2 separate regions of the Homo sapiens genome follow, and region 1 is linked to region 2. A link means that fine-mapping ties the variant in region 2 to the expression of a gene that starts in the linked region. Tissue or cell type: tibial artery. Region 2 holds a variant in brackets; the other region holds the start of a gene. All regions are shown on one strand. Distances are from middle to middle.

What was found. PIP is the estimated chance that this variant, and not a neighbour inherited with it, causes the effect.
Region 1: CPSF4 starts here. The variant in region 2 is fine-mapped to the expression of CPSF4 in tibial artery (GTEx, PIP above 0.99).

What each region holds. Positions count from the first base shown.
Region 1 is chr7:99,435,313-99,443,400 of GRCh38, reverse strand. It overlaps CPSF4 (cleavage and polyadenylation specific factor 4), which reads right to left and starts at 4,458. Exons shown (of 8, transcript NM_006693.4): 1 at 4,216-4,458. The coding sequence starts at 4,318. The region is part of intron 2 of ATP5MF-PTCD1 (ATP5MF-PTCD1 readthrough); the gene reads left to right. PTCD1 (pentatricopeptide repeat domain 1) reads left to right here and starts at 4,603. Exons shown (of 8, transcript NM_015545.4): 1 at 4,603-4,709. It also overlaps the pseudogene LOC100131859. RefSeq lists silencers at 4,164-4,463, 7,962-8,088 and enhancers at 4,724-5,013, 6,310-6,835.
Region 2 is chr7:99,919,143-99,927,230 of GRCh38, reverse strand. It overlaps TRIM4 (tripartite motif containing 4), which reads left to right and starts at 7,701. Exons shown (of 6, transcript NM_033091.3): 1 at 7,701-8,088. The coding sequence starts at 7,830. GJC3 (gap junction protein gamma 3) reads left to right here. Exons shown (of 2, transcript NM_181538.3): 2 at 3,628-3,965. The coding sequence ends at 3,686. It overlaps LOC101927610 (a long non-coding RNA gene), which reads right to left and starts at 7,628. Exons shown (of 2, transcript XR_001745296.3): 1 at 7,404-7,628; 2 at 1,917-6,047. RefSeq lists enhancers at 7,330-7,439, 7,680-7,759, 7,790-7,839 and a silencer at 7,970-8,088. The variant C/T (reference allele first, on the strand shown) is at 3,568.

The DNA.
Region 1 (8,088 bases), 480 kb after region 2:
ATCTTATCCACAGACTCCAGGCATATCTTGAAGAACATGCTGAAGAGGAGGCAAATGAAGATGTACTAGGAGATGAAACAGAAGAAGAAAAAAACCCCTTGTCAAATAGGAAGAACCCCCTGAAAAAAACTGTTGATGTGGCAGCAGAGAAGAAAGTGGTGAAAATTACATCTGAAATACCACAGGCTGAGAGAATGCAGAAGAGGGCCGAACAATTCAGTGTACCTGTGAGCTTGGAGAGTAAGAAAGCTGCTCAGGCAGCTAGGTTTGGGATTTCTTCAGTTCCAACAAAAGTCTGTCATCTGAACACACCTATGGTTAACTTGGATAAGCCGAAGGAAAGAGCTCAAAGATTTGGTTTGAATGTCTCTTCAATTTCCAGAAAGTCTGAAGATGATAAGAAACTGAAAAAGAGGAAGGAGCGATTTGGGATTGTCACAAGTTCAGCTGGAACTGGAACCACAGAGGATACAGAGGCAAAGAAGAGGAAAAGAGCAGAGCGCTTTGGCATTGCCTGATGAAAGGTTCTTGATACTTTCTGTTCTCCAGTGTTTTCCACTTCTCTCATTCTTCTTGGTCACATATATACTAAATGCAGTCTTGCCTTGCAATGAGGGAGCAGGTACCCCAGGTAAAACTGTGAACTGCCGCGGCAGTTTGACTTATTGCTGTTTCAGCTTTAAGGTTGTTGTGTTTTTGTTTTTGATTATATTGCTTGTTTTTTGTTTTTTTTTTTTTTTTTTTTGAGACGGAGTCTCGCTGTTGCCCAGGCTGGAGTGCAGTGGTGTGATCTCGGCTCACTGCAGGCTCTGCCCCACCGGGGTTCACACCATTCTCCTGCCTCAGCCTCCCGAGTAGCTGGGACTACAGGCACCCGCCACCTTGCCCAGCTAATTTTTTGTATTTTTAGTAGAGACGGGGTTTCACCGTGTTAGCCAGGATGGTCTCGATCTCCTGACCTCGTGATCCGCCCGCCTCGGCCTCCCAAAGTGCTGGGATTACAGGTGTGAGCCACAACGCCCGGCCGATTATGTTGCTTGTTAATAAAAAAGAAAAGAAAAGAAAAAAAAAGCACAGCCTTTCATTCCCACAGTCGGAGTGTGCTGGAATTCAGTGGGCTCCAGGGACCAGCTGTTCTGATGAGTCCAGGAATTCACCAGCCCCAGCTGCCAGACTAAACTGACCTTGGCATCAGAAACAGTTTCCTCTACAAGTAACCATTTTAGAATTGCTGAAAAACCAATGACAGCATCTCTGAAGCCCACTTAACATGCCTCCCCTTGCTAAATCACAAAAGATTCCTTGGCTTCTTGGAAGCAAGCAGATTTTGCTAGGACACAGCTGAGGTTATAGAACTTATGGCTGTCACAGGGAGGTCACTCCATTTGCATCTCAAAAAGTCTGAAAGTGGCCAGGTGCGGTGACTCACGTCTGTAATCCTAGCACTTTGGGAGGCTGAGGCGGGTGGATCACTTGACATCAGGAGTTCAAGACCAGCCTGGCCAATATGGTGAAACCCCATCTCTACTAAAAATGCAAAAATTAGTCAGACATGGTGGCACGTGCCTGTAATCCCAGCTACCTGGGAGGCTGAGGCAGGAGAATCACTTGAACCCAGAGGCAGAGGTTGCAGTGAGCCAAGATCGCGTCACTGTGCTCCAGCCTGGGTAACAGAGCAAGACTCTGTCTCAAAAAAAAAGAAAAAAAAAATTCTGAAAGTACTTCTGGTCTCTCTCTTTAGAGGTTAGAGTTGCTTCTGCTCAGAAATACACAGTTCTGGGAACTGAGTCTCATGTGGATAGGATGAGTATGCCTTATGGGCAAAGTGACAGTTCTTCCCAAAACTCAGATGGGGATGAAGAGGAGGGATGGGTGAGGAAGGGCTGTGGCCTCACTAGGCTTTAACTGAACAGGATATGGACAAGCAGCGAGTGTGGAGGGTGCCTACCGACTCTGAAGCCCTGGCTGGAGCAACACCCATGGCTAGGTGTGTCCCGGGCCTCAGGAACAGGTATGTGGGCCCCTCGCCACTGTACCTCCCCTCACAGGCTTGTGGATGTGTCAGATGGCAGAAGGGTGGGAGGAAAAGAGCTGCCCTGCGTGGGTGGTTCCATGGTCTCAAGCTAGTGCCATCAAGACAGGAAAAGGCCGGCTGGGCACAGTGGCTTATGCCCGTAATCCCAGCACTTTGGGAGGCCGAGGCAGGTGGATCATTTAAGGTCAGGAGTTCAAGACCAGCCTGGCCAACATGGTGAAACCTCATCTCTACTAAAAATACAAAAATTAGTTGGGCGTGGTGGTGGGCGCCTATAATCCCAGCTACTCAGGAGGCCAAGGCAGCAGAACTGCTTGAACCTGGGAGGTGGAGGTTGCAGTGAGCCGAGATCGCACCATTGCACTCCAGCCTGGGTGACAAAAGCAAAACTCTGTCTCAAAAAAAAAAAAAAAAAAAAGACAGGAAAAGGCCACATGTGCAGGGATGATCACAAGAGTCGAGGGGTAGGTAAGAGGGGGTGTGTGTGTGTGAATTTGAGCAGCTGCTTTTTAGGGAGTGTACAGTGGTGATGGTGTTTGTGCCTGTGTCAAATAGGGTGGTCTGATGATGTCTCCTTATAAGCACTATCTTGTCTTCTTGAAGACTTAATTAATTTCCAATGAAACTATCTTGTACAGAACTATCACCATGTAAAGTTGTGGGACAGGCAGGAAAAAAAAAAAAAAAAAAATATATATATATATATATATGCCAGGTGCAGTGGCTCATGCCTATAATCCCAGTACTTCCGAAGGCCGAGGTAAAAGGATCACTTGAGCCCAGGAGTTCAAGACCAACCCTGGGAAACATGATGAAATAGTGTCTCTACCAAGAAATACACACAAAAAAATTTGCCAGGCGTGTTGGTGCATGCCTGTGGTCCCAGCTACTTGGGAGACTGAGGTGGGAGGATTGCTGGAGCCTGGGAAGTCGAGGCTGCATTGAGCCATGATTGCGTCACTGCACCCAGCCTGGGCGACAGAGGGGCCCCTGTCTCAAAAGCAAACAAACAACAACAACAAAAACACATAAAGGGACAGACTCAGAGGTCACATGTGCATGAGAAGGTGTGACCGCCTGAGGGGAGTGAGGCTGCTGGGAGCGGTGGGAGACCCCGCTGGTAGTTGTGGGCGACAGCACACAACACTGGAGAGCTTGCCCGCCTCTGCTATGCACTGAGTGATTGTCAGCAAGTCCCTTCCCCCGCTTGGGTCTCAGTTTCCCCATCTGTGGATTGAACTCAGTGACTTCCACAAGCCCCCAAACTTTAAGGTTATAGCATTAGATTTCAAGTATGTCCAGATAGGAAAGAAGACACAAAGAAAACTACTGGTTTCTTTTAAAGTACAAGATATCCCACCGAGTAGGAGGTGGGAAGCCAGGAGCCACCATATGAAGGGGAGCAGTGAAGGGAGTTCAGGCCAAGGGTCCACACCAGCTGCTGGGTGTGATGAATAACTCAGAGTTGGGGTCCAGAAAAAAGTAGGGACGGGCCAAAAACTAGGGATGAGCTCCCAGGAGAGTGAGTCCTAGAAGGGAGTTTGAGAGTCTAGCTGGGGTCTCCTACAGAAAGGTGGTCCTTCCCTCAGCACATCTCCTCCAACCGCCTAGTTTTGATGAAATCAAGAAGAGACGCTCAACGTAGCGGGTGTGATATCCTAGTACTCTCCTGCAGTTGGGAGAGTGTTGAGGGAGAGTTCCAATCCAGGATAACCCACCCTTATTCAAGAATTAAGCGAACAGACAAGGTCTACCCTCCTACAGATTACCTTTGAACAGCCGCAGAGGGCCAAAGATCCGAGGCAGTGAACTCCTGAGTCCGAGTGAGGGTAAAAGGAGTCCCCAGACGGTGGAAATGGGGGCCTGGGAGTCAGGAGTCCTGAAACCAAGGGGAGCGTCCCGGGATCCAGAAGAGGAGGTCTCAGGATGGAGTGGGAAGAGTCTCGGGACCACAGATGAGGGAGTTCGGTAACTAAAGGGGAGGATCCCAGGACCCGGAGGAGGTGGGAGGGACTCTCAAGACCTAGAGGGAGGAGTCCTGCGACCAAAGGGGAGGGGTCCCAGGATCCAGAGGAAGCCGGGGGAGGTCTCAGGACCGAGGCGAGGGAGTCCCGGGATCACAGAGGAGCGGGTCCCGGGTTCGAGTCGCTCTTGCCCTCCCGCCCGGGCCCCGCGCTCACTGTCCATGCCGGGGAAGGGCAGCGGCTGCGCCCCCAGCTGCTGCTCCACCGCGATCTCCAAGTCAAACTTGATGTGGTCCACGCTGGCGATGATTTCCTGCATGGCGGCGGCGGCGGCCCCACCGGCCCGGCTCCCCCTCGGTCTCCTGCAGCCTTCTCGCCTTTACCCGCCGCCGGCCCCGCCGCACACACTCCTCCTTCGCTTCGCCTCGCCGCCGCCGCCGCCGCCGCCCGAGGGATGCCGGGAGCGCCCGGAGCCCGCGCCGGCCCTTGCGCCTGTCCAGGCACTGCCAATCGAGACTCCGCCGTTCCGCTAGTCCCAGCTAGCCGCCAGCCGAACACCGGCCTCGCCAGAAACCTGAAACCAGCCGCGTGAGTCGGCGACGCGGATTGCGCCTGCGCGCTTGGGGAGAGGGGGACCCGAGGAAGAGACTGGTTCGCCGCGGGGACCGGGCAGGGCTCCCCGTCGGAGTGCACTGCGCCGGACACTTCAAGTGAGTTCCTGTGTGATCCTCGCAGGAGCCCCGGGACCCGGGCCAAGACACGCCAGAGGGGAAGGAAGTGCCCGAGCCGGGATTGGAGCCGGGGGCGTCTGAGGAGGGAAACTGAGGCTGCAGAAGTCCGTGTGGAGAGGGGTCGGCGTTGGCCTGAGGGTCCGGGTGGGCCTCTGAGGAGGGGCGGGTCTCTCCGAGGAAGGACGGCCGCAGCGTGTCTCTAATTCAGGGTTTTTTCTCGCTCTGTGGCCCAGGCTGGAGTACAGGGGTACGATCATAGCTCACTGCAGTCAACTTCTCAGACTCAAGCGATCCTCCCACCTCAGCCTCCCGAGTAGCTGGAACTACAGACGCTGCACCACCACACTTGGCTAATTTTTAAAATTTTATTTTTAATTTTTGTAGAGACGGCGGGGTTGGGGGGGCGGGTGGCGGGTCTTGCTATGTTGCCCAGGCTGGTCTCGAACTCCTGGCCCCAAGCCCAAAGCGATCCTCCTGCCTGGGCCTCCCAAAGTGCTGGAATTGCAGGCATGAGCCACTATACAGCCTAATTCAGGGTTTTTTTTAACCAGGGTGGGGTAATGAGCTTGTGTAGGAACAAAATGCACCCCTATTTTTCTCTATGTGAAGTATAGCATTTCCTTTCCTGATTGCTGGAGCAGCCTTAGCAGTGCCTGAAACTGTGAGGGTGAGTGTAAATGATAGTTCCAGATAACAGTTTGTGCAGGGCCAGGCATGGTGGCTCACACCTGTAACCTCAGCACTTTGGGAGTCTGAGGCGAGAGGATCACGTGAGGTCAGGAGTTCGAGACCAGCCTGGACAGGATGGCAAAACCCCGTCCCTACTGAAAATATAAAAATTGGCCTGGAGTAGTGGCGCGTTCCTGTAATCCCAGCTACTTGGGAGGCTGAGGCATGAGCATGGCTTAAACCCGGGAGGCAGAGGTTGCATTGAGCCGAGATTGTACCACCCCACTCCAGCCTGGTGACAGAGTGAGACGCAAAAAAACCCAGTTTGTGCAGCAACTACAAGGTGGTATCTTAAGCTGTCACTTACATTTATTACTGCTTTGAAATTATGATAGAGTCGGCCGGGCGCGGTGGCTCACGGCTGTAATCCCAGCACTTCGGGAGGCCGAGGCGGGCGGATCACAAGGTCAAAAGATCCAGACCATCCTGGCCAACATGGTGAAACCCTGTCTCTACTAAAAATACAAAAATTAGCTGGGCTTGGTGGCATGCGTCTGTAGTCCCAGCTCCAGGGGAGGCTGAGGCAGGAGAATCGCTTGAATCCGGGAGGCGGAAATTGCAGTGAGCCGAGGTCACGCCTGAGGACAGAGTGAGAGACTGTCTCAAAAAAAAAAAAAGAAAAGAAAAGAAATTATGATAGGGTCTTGTTATTTCATGCATTGAAAATAAGCATCTATACTAGTATAGCAGAAATTTGTTTTTAAAGCATTTTGATGCCATTTCAATATCATTGCTTTTTGTTTTGTAATTCTGTGTATTGTAATTAATGCACGTAAGGCAGGGCATGGAGGCTTACGCCTGCAATCCCAACACTTTGGGAGGCCAAGGCTGGAGGATTGCTTGAGGCCAGGAGTTCTAGACCAGCCTGGCAACATAGGGAGACTCCATCTCTACAAAAAAATACAAAAAATTAGACAGGTATGGTGGTGTGCACCAGTAGTGCTAGTTAATTGAGAGGCTGAGGTAGGAGGATCACTTGAGCCCAGGAGTTGGAGGTTGCAGTGATTGTGCATTTGCACTCCACTGTGCCATCGCACTCCAGCCTGGGCAACATGAAGACCCCATTCCACAAAAAAGAAAATTACATAAACACCATGCTTGTAAGAAGGAGTGGCAGGGCTTGCCAGATGCAGAATGATAAAGGCCCCCTGCACTAGTTTCACAAAAGGTGCTGGTCAGGACAATCATCAATGCGTTACATGGACCTGAGTTCAAAGCCAGCCCAGCCCAAGCTGGCCAGTCTCACCCACTGCACTGCTGCAGGACCCCAGCAAGTCTCTCCCCTTGCTGGGCCTAGTTTTTTGTTTGTTGTTGTTGTTGTTGTTTTGAGATGGAGTCTTGCTCTGTCGCTCAGGCTGGAGTGCAATGGCGCGATCTTGGCTCACTGCAACCTCTGCCTCCCACGTTCAAGTGATTCTCCTGCCTCAGCCTCCCAAGTAGCTGGGATTACAGGGGCACGCTGTCACGCCCAGCTAATTTTTATATTTTCGGCAGAGATAGGGTTCACCACGTCAGGCTGGTCTCGAACTCCTGACCTGAGGGGATCCACCCACCTTGGCCTCCCAAAGTGCTGGGATTACAGGCGTGAGCCACCGCTCCTGACCTACTGGGCCTAGTTTTTAATCTGTTCAATCTGCCATCACTTGTAAGACTTTTCCAATCGCAACCTTCTAATATAACCAGACTCTAAAATACTTTAGGCTGGGCATGGTGGCTCATTGCTGTAATCCCAGTGCTTTGGGAGGTCGAGGCGAGAGGATTGCTTGAGTCCAGGAGTTCAAGACCAGCCTGGGCACATAGCAAGACCCTGTCTCTACCAAAAAATAAAATTAGCCAGGCATAGTGGCTCACACCTGTAGTTCCAGCTACTCGGGAGGCTGAAATGGGAGGATCGCTTGAGCACAGGAGGGTGGGGCTGCAGTGAGCTATGTCTGACCTGAACCTAGGCTTTCTAACCTCTGGGCCCATACTTCTTATTTTATTTATTATTATTATTTTTTTTTTTTTCTGAGACAGAGTCTCACTGTCACTCAGGCTGGAGTGCAGTGGCGCGATCTCAGCTCACTGCAAGCTCCGTCTCCTGGGTTCAAGCGATTCTCCTACCTCAGTCTCCTCAGTAGCTGGGATTAGACGTGTAGCACCACACCCAGCTCATGTTTTTTGTATTTTTAGTAGAGATGGGGTGTCGCCAGGCTGGTCTTGAACTGATCTGCCCGCCTCGGCCTCCCAAAGTGCTGGGAGTGCAGGCATGAGCCACCGCCCCTGGCCTGTTCTTTTTCTTTCTTTCTTTTCTTTTTTTTTTCGAGACAGAGTCTCACTCTGTCACCCAGGTTGGAGTATGGTGGCGCAATCTCAGCTCACTGCAAGCTCCATCTCCCAGGTTCAGGTGATTCTCCTGCCTCAGCCTCCTGAGTAGCTGGGATTACAGGCGCACAGCACCAAGCCTGGCTAATTTTTGTATTTTTCATAGAGACGGGGTTTCACCATGTTGTCCAGGCTGGTCTCAAACTCCTGACCTCAAGTGATATGCCAGCCTCGACCTCCCAAAGTGCTGGGATTACAGGCATGAGCCACCGCGCCTGGCCTGGGCCCATACTTGTAACCACTTCTTTCTTTCTGCCTTTTGTTA
Region 2 (8,088 bases):
AAGGAAAACTCTAACTTTCCTTGCCTAAGTAACACAAGGACCAGAGGCTACTCCCTTTGCAACACCCCCACCTTTTCTGTGCAGCAGATGGGAAATTGCCTGTCCCCAACAAATCAGGCTGTTTGCAGATGAGTCTTCCTTTGCAACTTCGTAACTTCTTCCTAGCCTCTGATTGGTTGCTTTCTGCAAAGCATGAACTGGCCAAAGGGAAACTTCTAGTGGGTACTGGGACCCAAGAAGATTGTGTATCCGTGCCCTTGAACCGCTGCTCGGATTGCTCCCACACTGTGGCGTGTACTTTGGTTTTCAATAAATCCCTGCTTTCGTTCTTTTGTTGCTTCATCCTTTCTTTGCTTTGCTAGGAGTTTTGTCCAATTCCTTGTTCAAAACGCCAAGAACCTGGACAACTTGCAGTCACTATCCTCTACCAGTGACAAAAGTATACAATTAAATAGCCTTTAGTATATTCAGAGTTGTATATCCATCAACACTACCAATTTAATAACATTTTCATCAACTTAAAAAAACCCTACCCCCTCATGTTACTCTCAAACTCTTATTAGCACCCAAAACATGCAACCATCATATGGTTTTGTCTCTATTGGTTTTCCTACTCTTTCATACAAATGGAATCATGCAATATGTGGTCTTTCATGTCTGGCTTCTTTCACTGAGCATAACTTGAGGTTCATTCATGTTGTGGCATGTTTCAGTATTACATTCCTTTATATGGTTGAGTGTTATTCCACTGTTAGGATATACCACATTTTGTTTAAGGAGATACCACATTTTGTTTATACATTCTTCAGTTTCAGGACATTTGGGTTGTTTCCATTTTTTGGCTCTTATGACCACTGTTGCTATGAACATATGTGTACCACTTTTTTTTTTTTTTTTGGGATGGAGTCTCACTCTGTCACCCAGACTGGAGTGCAGTGGTGTGATCTTGGCTTATTGCAACCTCCACTTCCTGGGTTCAAGCGATTCTCCTGCTTCAGCGTCCTGAGTACCTGGGACTACAGGTGCGCACCACCACACCCAGCTAATTTTTGTATTTTTTGTAGAGACAGGGTTTTGCCATGTTGGCCAGGCTGGTCTCAAACTCCTGACCTCAGGTTATCTGCCTGCCTCAGCTTCCCAAAGTGCTGGAACAACAGTCCTGAGCCACCACACCTGGCCCCAGTTTTAGTGTTGTGTAAACACATGTTGTCAGTTCTCTTGCATAAATAACCAGGAATAGAATGTCTGGGTCATAAGGAAACTCCACGTTTCAACTTTTGAGGAACTGCCAAACTCTTTTCCACAGCAGCTGCACTATTTTTACATTCCTACCAGCAATGTGGGAATACTTTTTATTTATCTATTAAATTCTAGCCATCCTAGTGGGTGTGAAGTGGTATCTCATTGTAGTTTTGATTTGCACTTGCCTAATGGCTAATTACATTGAACATTTTCCATGTGCTTAGTGGTTATTTGTATATCTTCTTTGGAGAAATGTCTATTCAAATCCTTTTCCCATTTATAAATAGAGTTTTTTGTATTTTTGTTGTTGCATTGTAAGAGCTCTTTATATATTGTGGGTATTAGATACTTATTGTATGTATGATTTCCAAATATCTTCTCCCATTCTATGATTGTCTTTCACTTTCTTGATAGTGATGCACAAAAGTTTTAAATTTTAATGAAGTCTAACATCCAATTTTTTCTTTTGTTGCTTATGATTTTTGTGTATTACCTAAGAAACTATTGCCTAATTCACAGCCATAAAGATTAATGCCTATGTTTCCATAAGAGTTGTATAGTTTCAGCTCTTACATTTAGGTCTCTGGTTGGTTTTGAGTTAATTTTTGTGTATGGTGTAAGATAAATGTCAAACTTTATCTTTTGCATGTGGATATTCAATTGTCTCAGCACTATTTCTTTTTTAAAAACTTTTTTTATTTAAATGGGTACATAGTAGGTTATATATTTATGGGGTATACAAGGTATTTTGATACAGGTATGCAATGTGTAATAGTCACATCAGGGTAAATGGGGTATTTATCACCTCAAGCCTTCAGCCTTTGTTATAAATAATCCAATTATACTAGTTATTTTATAATGTACAATTATTTTTGACTGTAATCACCCTGTTGTGCTATCAACTACTAATTCTTATTCATTCTATTTTTTGTACCCATTAACCATCTCCACTTTCCCCCTACTACCCTTCCCATCCTTGGTAATCATCAGAGAAGATATACAGATAATAAGAAAGCATATGAAAAGATGTTTAACATCATTTATCATTAGAGAAATGAGAATGATTGACTTTAGGGTTAGGGAAGAGAAATACAAGATAAGACTGGAGGATTTTGTAGCGGTAGAAAGTAAGAAAGTGCTACTCCCTCTTCCCCACAAAATGACAGGAGTTTGTCAAAGGGACACAGATGTCAACTGAAAAAGTTCCCAATGGCCAACACAGGAATAATCTGAGCAGTAAAATAAACAACATAGTATTGGATTATACCCAAAGTATAAAATAGGAATCCATGAATTCATAATATAAATAATTGAATAAATAGGAGATAACTGACAAATTTCTCATGCAGAAGAATGTAGATACTCCACCGCAAGGAGGGGAAATATAACTACTCACTTTTTTTTCTTTTGAGATGGAATTTTGCTCATCGCCCAGGCTGGAGTGCAATGGCAGGATCACTGCAATCTCTGCCTCCCAGGTTCAAGCAGTTCTCCTGCCTCAGCCTCCTGAATAGCTGGGATTACAGGCGTGCACCACCATGCCTGGCTAATTTTTGTATTTTTAGCAGAGACGGGGTTTCACCATGTCGGCCAAGCTGGTCTCGAACTCCTGACCTCAGGTGATCCACCCACTCAGCCTCCCAAAGTGCTGGGATTACAGGCGTGAGCCACCGTGCCCACCAACTACTCCCTTTTTAGGCATGGGCTGCACATAGTGACTTCCCACTAAACAGTAAAATAGGGGGAGGGGAAAGAATAACTTTACAGGGAGAAACCCATCAAATACTACCTCAGCCGGGTGATCAAGGTTAACATCAACAGTGATGAGCAATGTTGACAGCATGTGCCCCGGATATGATGTGATGACGGTTTTTGTATTTTCCCGTTCTAAAATTTCCATGGGGCTATTCTTTGTATTTTCTATTACTTCTCTGAGACTTTTAAACTTTCCATTTGAATAGCAGCTTTATAGTCTTGATAATTCCAACATGTGTGGCAACTTACATTCTGCATCTGTTACATTTTTTCCCAACGTGAGTTGAGATTTTCCTGGTTCTTCACCTGCCAATTAATATCGATTGTATCCTGGACATTTTGAATGTCATTAGGATGCTCTGGGTCTTGGTTAAATTTGGTGGAGGATGTTGATATTTATGTTTTAAAGGGTAATTAACCCATTTGGGTTCAAGTCATAAGTTTTGACCAGCCTTCTGAGGGTTGTGGTTCCAATGTCAGTTCAGTTTTCAAAGCCTTTGTAGTACTCTTCTGATAGGTCCCACATGGGTGGCACCTAAAGTGTAACCCAGGGTCCTTGGGTTTTGGGTA[C/T]GCACTGTGAAAAAGTTACACACTTGTAACTGTTACATCTTGAATTTTTGTTTTAAAAAGTTCCAGGAAGAAGCTTAGCCCAGGAAAAACAAAGACCAGTTGGACCCAGAGATGCCTGAGTTGGAGATGAACTTTGGCCAACTTTCCTCATCACCATACTTAAAATCCTGTCCAAGGAGGAGCTTATTCACCATTTTCTATACATGTGACATATGTAGCAGCATAACCGACAACTGGGACTGCGCTGCCTTGACTCCACCTCTACATACAATGACTCAGCTAACCAGACTAATAAAAGCCATGTTTGCACCATTGCTCAGGGAGGCATTGCTTTGGGGAATTATTCCCAGTGTCCTCCTTACTTATCGCAAGTAATAAAATCCCCCTGGGAAATCCTCCTTGGTTGTGGTCATTGGACTGTCCCCTGCCAAGCAATTTAACCCATTCATTGTGTGGGTAACAAAAGGCCAGTCTGGGACATGAGATCTGGGTCTACAGTTTAGTTCTCAAAGTCTTTGGCATGCAATTTAGGACCAGATTCATCATACCAAAAAAGGGAGATAGTCTCAACAGAATTCTCAAATTACTTAAATATCAGAGGCAGTGTAGAGAAGGAGTACTTGGTGGTATGGTAGGTTTTCTGACAGGAAACAAAAGATGGAGGTAAAATGGAACCAGTACTTTCTTTCTGAGAATACTGACTGCACCAACCATAACATGAAGCGAAGGCTATATCTCCCTGAAGTAAGAAATGTAATAAAGGAAACTTTCAGAAATAATAGATCATCTGGAGATGTTGGGCAGTGTATTTGGTAAGTTATAACTACCAGGTATCAATACAATAAGCTTAGTTTGAATACAATAAGCTTAGTTTCTTTTTAAAGAATTTATCCTGCTCTGTGTTCTCTGAGCTCCTTGGATTGGTTTGGTGTCTTACAAATTTTGGAAATTCTCAGCCATTATTTCTTGATTTTTTTTTTTTTTTTGAGATAGAGTCTTGCTCTGTCGCCCAGGCTGGAGTGCAGTGGTGTGATCTCAGCTCACTGCAAGCTCCGCCTCCCGGGTTCACGCAATTCTCTTACCTCAGCCTCCCGAGTAGCTGGGACGACAGGTGCCTGCTACCATGCCCGGCTAATTTTTTTGAATTTTTAGTAGAGACGGGGTTTCACTGCGTTAGCTAGGATGGTCTCGATCTCCTGACCTCGTGATCTGCCTGCCTCGGCCTCCCCAAGTGCTGGGATTACAGGGGTGAGCCACTGCGCCTATTTCTTGATTTGATGTTGATATTTTCCCACCAGTCTTGGATGCTGTGTTCTGTTTCTGTCACTCTTTTTGTGTGTGTGTGTGTGTGTGTTTCAGCAATTTCTATTTACCTACCTTCAAGTCTGATTTTTTCCTCAACTGTGTTCAGTCTCCTAATGGGCCCATGGAGGGCATTCTTCATCTCTATTATTATATTTTTTATTTTTATAGTTTCCATTTTATTTTTCCTGATAGTTTCCATCTATTTGCTAAAATCACCCATCTGAGCTTGCATTTTGTTCACCTTTCCCCTTAGGGCCTTCATCACATTAATCACAGTTATTTAAAATTCTCTCATATTTCTAATGTCTATGTCTTATGAATCTGGTTCTAATGATTGTTTTATCTCTTTGGACTGTGTTTTTTCTTGCCTTTCTGTATGCGTCTTTTTTTCTTTCTGTTAAAAGTTAGTCATGTTGTATTTTTTTTGCTTAAATTATTTTTTCAATTCTCTCTTCACAGTATGAAGTAAAGATTGTTTTTATGCTTGGAGATGAGTGTGTCTTTCCTTCTGCTAGGCCTTTAGTGCTCTTGAGTGCATAGCAGTGGTTCGGTGGTATCAGTCTAGTCAGAAATTGGGCTAGGTTTACAGTTTGTTGTTGTGGTTATCCTCAGTGCACAACAGACTTCAAATTTCTCTAGAGATAGCTTATGTGTAGGGTGTGGACTTTATTTTGAAAGTGTGTTTTAAAGAGGTCTGTATGGATGTCAACTCGATGCAGAGTGGACAGTGGTAATTTTGTAATATATCAACTTTGCTAAGCTAAACTATGTTTCCCAGAATTTCCTTTCCTTTTGTTTCTGGTTAGAATAGCCCAACAGAGACATGGTTGTGTAAGTCTTGAAGGGGAGAACTGAAGCATCCCTCCAGTTTTATACTTGAAACGGTGGTGCAGGGACACTAGGTGCTACTGCGGCTCATCTACTTTGTCACCAATCAGCTGGTTCACCTTGTTGGGATGGGGCAGAAGCTTTTCCCTGAGTCTTCCTTCACCTTTTTTGATTCCTGAGCTGTGTGTGTGTCTAGTCCTGTGGCAAAAAGTGTCAGCTCCTCTAGCAAGGATACTCATATCTTTAAAGTTGGAGACAGTGAAAGAATGACCAGCTCGTGTCTTAGGTTCCAACTCATTTTTGCTCTTCCCTACTTTATGTTCATCTTCCCTTCTTAACTGCTTGCCCTGCGAACATAAAGAAACATAGTGATTCCACTTCTCTGAATGAACCTTGGCTGGTATACAGACTTATAGACATTTTGTGATGGAGAAAAATTGTTAATTAGGGAGCCTCACTTAGTAAAGAAGGAAGGTCATCTCTGGTATGGCAGGAATAAAGACATAAGGATTTTAAGGGATTTACCTGAAAAGATTTAAATGACTACTGTAAGGGGAATAAATACTTTGCAGGAATGCTGAAACTTCTCATTCAATACTTAGGTAAACATATAGACACACAGATGCCATAAACACTCATGGTAAACATCAGTAACTGTTAAGAGCATTCCTTCCTGCTTGGTCCCTATTAAAGAACCAGATCCCTTCTCCATAGAGTATTCCAATTTGCAAAGAAAATCCATTCATTAGTTGTCCAATTTAAATGTTTTAGAAATATTCAGTGGAACTTTCATCAATAACCCCCAAACAGATACCTCAAGAACCCCTTTTTCTAATCATTTAATCATACTACTTACTGAGAAAAATTATTATAGGAAAGGCAGTATTTGATATTGGGACATAAAAAGAATGAAAAATCTGTTAAATAAGCAAAAGCCCATTAGCCTGAGGCTGTCTTGGTACTTGAGTTCCCATATAACAAAATACAACCTGACTTAGTATGTAAACGAACTGAAGCCTAACTTACTTTATTTTTTATAACAGCTGGGTTTCAGCCAATCACGGCCGAGCTTCAGCAAATAACAGACAGCCAACTGATCAGACCATGCCCCAATAAGGCAAATGCCTCATCATATCATTGTCAAATAAGGCAGACACCTAGATGTTAGCTAATGAGGTGATTTCTCTACTTTGCTTCCTATAAAAGCTAGCAGGTCATACTGCTGGACAGAGCTCTCTGAACCTCTTTTGGTTCTGAGTGCTGCCCAATTCATGAACTGTTCTTTGTGCAAATAGCTTCTATTAAATTTGTCAGTCCAGAGTTTTTTTTGTTTTAAACAAATATTCACAAGAAAAGGAAGAAAGTGGGAAGAATAAAAAGCAAAGCACCTCAGAAACACAAGATCGAAAATCCACTTAAGGGATATAGATAATTCCCTGAAACAGGTGAGCATATTATTTGTTGAAAGCCTCCATGGATGTTCTTTGGGATAGCAAAATGGTTGCTACTTTTCAAATTGGATACCAAAAAGGCAATGTATCTGCATCTCAGAATCCAAATCATCCCCACGTTAGCCAAACTCCAGGCCTACCAACACAGATCCTTCAAGTCTTCCTGGCCTTCCAGGCCCCTAGGCTGCAGCTCGCCCAGAACTCCTGGGACTCTAAAACTTAAATCGGTCTAACCAGCAGGCGAACACAGACCTGAACCCTCAAACTTGGAAAGAAAGATCATAGGCACCTCCCCGGTTGGCTCCCCCAGGGACCACAACGTCCGGCTCTAACGCCTTGCCCAAGTCCTCTGTAGCTTTCCACAGGCATTTCTGGGTCTCTATAGCTGTTTGGAGGAGCCACTCACCGGTCCCGTCCTGCCCCGCGCCTAGGCCTGAACCAACCCCCTCGCGGTTCCGGCGCGGATACCCAGCAGCTTCCGGTCTTGCGCGCTCAGGCCGGGCAACGTCCGTGCGTTCTTTTTGGGTCCTGAACCCCGGAAGAGAAACTGCGTTGTACCCTTTTACGTGAGGCGGTGACGGCGGTTCGGAAGTCGTCTGGCCTCCCCGCGGCCGCTCGCAGCTTGCTGGCCTCTCCCGCGCCTCACGTCGGACTCCGTCTCCGCGGCAGGGAAGCAGCATGGAAGCTGAGGACATCCAGGAGGAGTTGACCTGCCCCATCTGCCTGGACTATTTCCAGGACCCGGTGTCCATCGAGTGCGGCCACAACTTCTGCCGCGGCTGCCTGCACCGCAACTGGGCGCCGGGCGGCGGCCCGTTCCCCTGCCCCGAATGTCGGCACCCATCGGCGCCCGCCGCGCTGCGACCCAACTGGGCCCTGGCCAGGCTGACTGAGAAGACGCAGCGCCGGCGCCTGGGCCCCGTGCCCCCGGGCCTGT